Homo sapiens: one gene and its partner. The protein of the gene in region 1 purifies or fractionates together with the protein of each later gene. This does not show direct contact. Each region holds a gene or a part of one and is shown on either strand. Other genes may lie near its edges. The genes, in order: ICMT and RAD51D.

Region 1 (3,817 bases):
GAGGCAGGAGAATCGCTTGAACCCGGGAGGCAGAGGTTGCAGTGAGCTGAGATCACATGATTGCACTCCAGCCTGGGCAACAAGAGTGAAACTCCATCTCAAAAAAATAAATTAATTAAAAAATACAAAAATTAGCCAGGTGTGATGACACACATCTGTAGTTTCAGCTACTTAGAAGGCTGAGGCAGGAGAATCACTCAAACCCGGGAGGCGGAGGTTGCAATGAGCCGAGATTGTGACACCGCACTCCAGCCTGGGCAGATACTTAGGAGACTAAGGTGGGAGGATCACTTGAGCCCAAGAGGTAGAGGCTGCAGTAAACCATGATCATGCCAATGCACTATAGCCTGGGTGAGAGACCCTGCCTCAAAACAAAACAAAAAACCATACATAAATAAAAAAAATACACACACACACACACACACACACACACACACACACACACATAGAGCAGGTGCAGTGGCTCACACCTATAATCCTTACACTTCTTTTTCTTTTTTTCTTTTTGAGACAGATTCTTGCTGTGTCACCCTGGCTGGAGTGCAGTGGCGTGATCTCAGCTCACTGCAACCTCTGCCTCCCAGGTTCAAGCAAATATTGTGCCTCAGTCTCTCGACTAGCTGGAATTATAAGTAAGAACCACCATGCCTGGCCTAATCCCAGCACTTTAGAAGGCCAAGGTAGGAGGATGGCTTGAGCCCAGGAGTTCAAGACCAGCATGGGCAACAAAGGAGGAACCATCTCTTTTTTTTTTGAGACAGAGTCTCACTCCATCACCCAGGCTGGAGTGCAGTGGCACAATCTCAGCTCACTGCAACCTCCACCTCCCAGGTTCAAGCGGTTCTCAGGTCTCAGCCTCCCGAGTAGCTGAGACTATAGGCATGTGCCACCAGGCCCAACTAATTTTTGTATTTTTAATAGAGATGGGGTTTTGCCATGTTGGCTAGGCTTGTCTCAAACTCCTGATGTCAAGTGACCCACCCACTTCAGCCTCTCAAAGTGCTGGGATTACAGGCAACCGTCCAGGAGAACCACCTCTACAAAAAATTTAAAAATTAGCCGGACGTGGTGGCAACACCTGTAATGTATTCCAGCTACTTGGGAGGCTGAGGTAGGAGGATCACTTGAGCTCAGGAGGTCAAGGCTGCAGTGAGCCATGATCAGAACACTGCACTCCAGGCTGGGCAACACAGCAAGATCCTGTCTTTAAAAAAAAAAAAAAAAAAAAAAGCTGGGCACGGTGGCTCATGCCTATAATCCCAGCACTTTGGGAGGCCGAGGCGGGCAGATCATGAGGTCAGGAGATCAAGACCATCCTGGCTAACACAGTCAAACCTCATCTCTACTAAAAATACAAACAATTAGCCGGGTGTGGTGGCGGGCGCCTGTAGTCCCAGCTACTCAGGAGGCTGAAGCAAGAGAATCGCTTGAACCTGGGAGGCAGAGGTTGCAGTGACCTGAGATCATGCCACTGCACTCCAGCCTGGGCAACAGGGCAACAGAGTGAGACTCCATCTCAAAAAGGAAAAAAAAAAAAAAAAGGCCAGGCACTGTAGCTCAAGCCTGTAATCCCAGCACTTTGAGAGGCCCAGGAAGGCAGACTGCTTGAGCTCAGTAGTTCAAGATGGCTCTGGGCAACTCGAGAAACCCTGTCTCTACAAAAAAAATACGAAAAGTAGTCAGGCATGGTGGTTCGTGCCTACAGTTCCAGCTACTTGGGAGGCAGAGGTTGCAGTGAACCAAGATCGCACCACTGCACTCTGGCCTGGTCAACAGAGCAAGACTAGGTCTCAAAAAAAAAAAAGAAAGAAAGAAAAGAAAAGAAACGAAACAAGGCCTTTTCTTCAGCCTGAGACAGAACAAACCTCCATGGCTCACACAGCTCACTAACACATGGCCTCGGCCCCATTAATACCTATTTCTGATGAAAACTAGCCAAGCTGCCACATGAGTGACAGAGGGCACTCCCTTCCCTAAGCCCCATCTCTGTCCTCACCCCCTCTGGGGTGCTTCAGATCTATTAATAGGTTGAAGGGGCAGAGAAAGGGAGAGGCACAATGGCTCATGCCTATAATGCTAGCACTTTGCGAGGCTGAGGTGGGAGGATCACTTAAGGCCAAGAGTTTGAGACCTGCCCAGGCAACACAGTAAGACCCTGTCTCTACCAAAAAAAAAAAAAGAAAAAAGAAAACAAACAAACAGAGGCAGAAACAGGATGAAGGGATACAGCAGGTAGCTAACAGCACCAAGAATCACCAAGGACTTACGCACCCAGGTTCTGGGCACATAGTGAAAAGCATTAAGGACTACATTAGTTCTCTTGACTTTTATTAAATTATCACTTGAAACGCGCCAAGAAGAACATGTACCTATTATTTAAAGGAGACCAACAACCTCATGAATACACTGAAAACCACTAATTGTATATTTTGAAATGGTGACTTTTATGCTACGTGAATATCACGTTTAAAATGTTACTTAAAAAAAAAAAAAAGAAAAGCAGTGTCATATTTAATATTATACCTGAGTTCCAATACTCCAGTAAAACCACCCGACGTAAGAAGGATGCCGAAACCAAGCGTACACTCCACTGGTCACCAGAGTATGTGTATCTGATTTTTCATTCTGTACCACGTGGTTGAAATTGGAGCCAGCTGTAAACATGGCCGCCTTCCTCAGACATTCTCCGAAGACCACCATCAGCAGCCCTGTGACACTGAGCCAGGTAATCTGCTTCAGTTCTGTGGGAGAGAGACATCAACGACACACGGGGAGTGAAAACACTGGCCTGAGCTCCCCTTCGCACTGCTTAAAATTAACCTATTTTCCCGAAGACAGAAACAGAAAATGTGCTGCTGGGCAATCAGCATTTGTCATCACATTAAAATTTCATAAGAAAACACATTCCCCTAAGTTATGCTGTTCATCAATTTACTTTAAAACACCAATAAGCACAATGAAAGCATCATGGTAAAGAGATGCTCTCCTGCTACAGCTGATGGGCTCTCTGGTTCACGACCCCCGGCCACATGCTCAGTCCTTCATCTGGGGACAAGTATAGCTAAGAGAAGCAAAAAAGGGTCCAAGGTTTCCACCCTGAATCCCAGGAGCCACATGTATTTCATTTCATTGGCTGTGAGACATTCAATTTCAGAGTGCATTCCACATACGGAGGCTTTTATTTTTTGAGACGGAGTTTCACTCTCATTGCCCAGGCTGGAGTGCAATGGCACAATCTCAGCTCACTGCAACCTCCATCTCCTGGGTTCAAGCAATTCTCCTGCCTCAGCCTCCCAAGTAGCTAGAATTACAGGCATGCACTACCAGGCCCGGCTAATTTTGTATTTTTCGTAGAGACGGGGTTTTACCATGCTGGTCAGGCTGGTTTCAAACTCCTGACCTCATGTGATCCACCCACCTCGGCCTCCCAAAGTGCTGGGATTAAAGGCGTGAGCCACTGCACCCGACCTTGTTAGTAAACTCTTTTTTTTTTTTTGAGATGGGAGTCTCGCTCTGTCACCCAGGCTGGAGTGCAGTGGCGCGATCACGGCTCACTGCAACCTCCGCCTCCCGGATTCAAGCAGTTCTCCTGCCTCAGCCTCCCGAGTAGCTGGGATTACAGGCATGTGCCACTACGCCTGGCTTTTTTGTATTTTTAGTAGAGACGGGGTTTCACCATATTGGCCAGGCTGGTCTCGAACTCCTGACCTTGTGATCCACCCGCCTCGACCTCCCAAAGTGCTGGGATTACAGGCGTTCGCCACCGTGCCCGGCCAGTAAACTCTTACATGAAACGTCTAAATATCATCTGATTATA
Region 2 (3,817 bases), on another chromosome or scaffold:
AGGGATAGAATCATGGAGGATTGGGAAGGAGTGGCAAACTGGCACCAGGGTGTTGGATTCAGGACAGGGTTGGTAAGCCTAAGCCTGGGGGAATCCTAGCGCTTGCTTTCACAGAAGACCTCAGGAGAAATTAATCTTCAGTATCTTTATACCATGGGTGATTGGCACATTCCTGCAACCACAGTAAGATGCAATACATGAAGCTGGAAATTGCAAATTCTTGCCACTCAAGGTACTATTTGGGCATCTTCAGCCCACAGCAGACATGACCAATCGGGCACAAGCACTCTTTTTTGTGGAAGTCAAAGTGTTTTTAGAAGTTTTTCTCAATATAGCACTCCAGGGGGCCACTACCAGTCAGTTGGAGTTGGTATTCAAGGTGGAGTCTGGTTGCCGTCTCTGCCCTGTTCCCATTATGTAGTGAGTTCAGGTACTTAATACCTAACTGAGGACCCTAGGACTGCAGTTTGAGATCATCTGGGGCCAGGCACAGTGGCTCACACCTATAATGGTAGCACTTTGGGAGCCTGAGGCGGGAGGATCACTTGAGCCCAGGAGTTTAACAGTTTAAAATCAGCCTGGGCAACATGATGAGACATCGTTTCTACAAAAAAATTTTTTAAATTAGCTAGGCATTGTGATGTGCACCTGTGGTCCCTGCTACTTGGGAGCCTGAGGCAGGAGAATCGCTTGAACCTTGGAGGTTGTGGCTGCAGTGAGCCCTGATCGCACCACTACACCCCAGCCTGGGTAACAGAGCAAGACCCTGTCTCAAGGAAAAAAAAAATCATCTGGCCCATCCTGTTACTTAACAGAGAAGGTACCTGAGGCTCAAAAAGGATGACTGACAGTCCTAGTGGCAGAATGGAGGTGGGATCTGGAACCCACAACTTGATTCCTAGGACTCTTTTTTTTTTAATTCCCACATTGGCTGGGTGTGGTGGCTCACGCCTGTAATCCCAGCACTTTGGGAGGCTGAGGTGGGTGGATCACCTAAGGTCAGGAGTTCCAGACCAGCCTGACCAACATGGTGAAACCCCGTCTGTACTAAAAATACAAAAATTAGCCAGGCATGGTGGCCCATTTCCTGTAATCCCAGCTACTCAGGAGGCTGAGGCAGAATCGCTTGAACCTGGGAGGCGGAGGTTGCAGGGAGCTGAGATGGCGCCACTGCACTCCAGCCTGAGCGACAGAGTGAGACTCCGTCTCAAAAAAAAAAAAAAAATGCAAAAATTAGCCAGGCGTCGTGGCGCATGTCTGTAATCCCAGCTCCTCGAGAGGCTGAGTGGGGAGGATCACTTGAGCCCAGGAGGCAGAGGTTGCAATGACCTGCGATCATGCCACTGCACTCCAGCCTGGGCAACAGAGACTCTGTTTCAAAAAGAAAAAAAAAATCCCCACATTTTATTTAATTTTCAGTCCATACAGTTCTATTCCTGCTAGGGCTGTAACTCCAGCTGAAGGCACCACAGCTGTCACCCAAGGAGTTTCTGTGGCCATGGGAAGGTGTTGCATTCACTGCTACTTGAGACCACCACGTGACATTCCTGCAGGCTGTGCCCCTCACAGCCAGCTTCATCCTTTGGCTCCTCCTAGACCAGGACTTTGTCTTGCCTGCCTGCTGCCACTGCACTCTGTTCCGGCCACACCACACTGTGCAGTCCCCTGGTAGGACTTGGGCTAGGCTGGCTCTCCTGTCCAAGTGCCTTTTGCTCCCTTTGCTTATGTGTCTGTCTCTGCCCAGCTCCCACTGTGTCTGGTGCACACCCACCCTGACATCCTTTTTTATGCCTCAGCTGTGATCTAGATAGATGCTTACAGTAACTTCCCTGTATTAGTTATTCACTTGTACTTTCTGTTCACGTGTCTGCCTACAGGCTCCCACTTTTTGTCACTTTTTCTCTTTATACATTATGGAAGCTCAGTAATGATTAAATAGATGAATGATGTTTTAAAAATATATTTTAAAAAAGCAAAGGACTGGCTCTATCTCAGGGGTTCCTTCCATAAAGCGTCAACTTTCAATTTCCCCTGCGGGGGTGGTTTGAGACCTGAGGGCACTCTCTAGTTCTTAGGAAAAAAATATACATATACATATACATATATATATATATATACACACACACACACACACATATACACACATATATATACATATATATACACACATATATATATATACACACATATATATACACACATATATATACACATATGAGCCAGGCGCAGTGGCTCACGCCTGTAATCCCAGCACTTTGGGAGGCCAAAGTGGGCGGATCACAAGGTCAGGAGTTCAAGACCAGCCTGGCCTATATAGTGAAACCCTGTCTCTACTAAAAATACAAAAATTAGCTGGGTGTGATGGCTCGCATCTGTAATCCCAGCTACTTGGGAGGCTGAGGCATGAGAATCGCTTGAACCTGGGAGATGGAGGTTGCAGTGAGCCGAGATTGTGCCACTGTACTCTAGCCTGGGCAACAGAGTGAGACTCCATCTAAAAAATATATATATATGTTCACACCCACATCATTGAGTCCCCAGAGTGTCTTCTTACATATCTTTTTACAGGGGACTATTGTATGCCCTTCGTCTGACATCAGATGAAATTAATGTTGAGATCCTACTATGTGCTAGCACTTGATGGCCTTAATTAAAAATCAGGCATTTGAATTCCCAAGGACTCAGGCAAAGGTCCATGTATCATTAAGGCTGCAAGTAACAAAACCTAGGCTTAAAGAAGTGTAAATACTAGGGACACTTATTTATATTTATTTCTTTTATGTTTCAAGACAGAGTCTTGCTCTGGAGTGCAGTGGCACAATCACGGCTCACTGTACCCTCTACCTCCCAAGCTCAAGTGATCCTCCCACTTCAGTCTCCCAAGTAGCTGGGACTACAGGTGTGTGCCACCACACCCATCTAAGTTTTGTATTTTTTGTAGAGACGGGGTCTCTGTACGTTGCCCAGGCTGGTCTTGAACTCCTGGGCTCAGGTGATCTACCCGCCTTGACCTCCCAAAGTGCTAGGGATTACAGTCATGAGCCACCATGCCTGGCAGGGACACTTATTATCTCTGATAACAGGAAGTCTGAGGTTTGTTAATTTAGTGGCTCATTGTCAAATGGCGTAGAGCCTTTGCATCCTTCTGCTCTGTTCTTTTATGTTGGTTTTGTCTTCAAGCTTGTTCCCCTTATGAAAGCCTGGCTGCAGCCATTTTGAGCATCAATCCAGACGTGACAATATCTACAGGCAGGAGAAGGATCGCCTCCTGTGTGTCCTTTAAAGAACAAGGTGTTAACATGCCAGGAACTGTGGCTCCTGACTGTAATCCCAGTAATTTGGGAAGCCAAAGTAGGAGGATCGCCTGAGGCCAGGAGTTCCAGACCAGCCTGGGCAACATAGCAAGACCCTATCTCTATAAAATAAAATAATAAAAATTAAGAAAACAAGGTGTTAAAAGACAAAATTAAAGCAAATATAGTTTTGCAGATTGTAATTGACTTTTATTTGCAATTCTAGAATTGGGCTGCCCTCAGAACCAGGACAGGTTCAGAGAATTCCAGAGCTGCAACATAGTCTGAAAGCATTTATGGTCAGAAAACAGAAATGAGATACAAAGACAACTAATTGGTTACAGCTCTGCCTTTGCCTTATTTGAAAATGGTTTGAATAGTTGGCTGCCTGGAACCCACTGAAGCTGATGATGTGATTGGCTGAGCCTCAGCAATCTGTTACAAAAGTATACTCCTAAATTAGGTTTTCAGTTAGTTTGCATACTAAGGCTGCAGTTTGTTAAGGGCCCAAGTAAAGCCTCCTC

Evidence for each region.
Region 2: the proteins of ICMT (region 1) and RAD51D purify together in Homo sapiens (affinity purification with mass spectrometry; 2 studies listed by BioGRID and IntAct, with this or other methods). This does not show direct contact.

The regions. Positions count from the first base shown.
Region 1 is NC_000001.11:6,229,379-6,233,195, forward strand, and holds part of ICMT (protein-S-isoprenylcysteine O-methyltransferase), read right to left. Parts: intron 2,742-3,817; coding exon 2,524-2,741; intron 1-2,523. UniProt on the Homo sapiens protein: Catalyzes the post-translational methylation of isoprenylated C-terminal cysteine residues.
Region 2 is NC_000017.11:35,095,818-35,099,634, reverse strand, and holds part of RAD51D (DNA repair protein RAD51 homolog 4), read left to right. Parts: 3' UTR 1-3,817. UniProt on the Homo sapiens protein: Involved in the homologous recombination repair (HRR) pathway of double-stranded DNA breaks arising during DNA replication or induced by DNA-damaging agents. Bind to single-stranded DNA (ssDNA) and has DNA-dependent ATPase activity.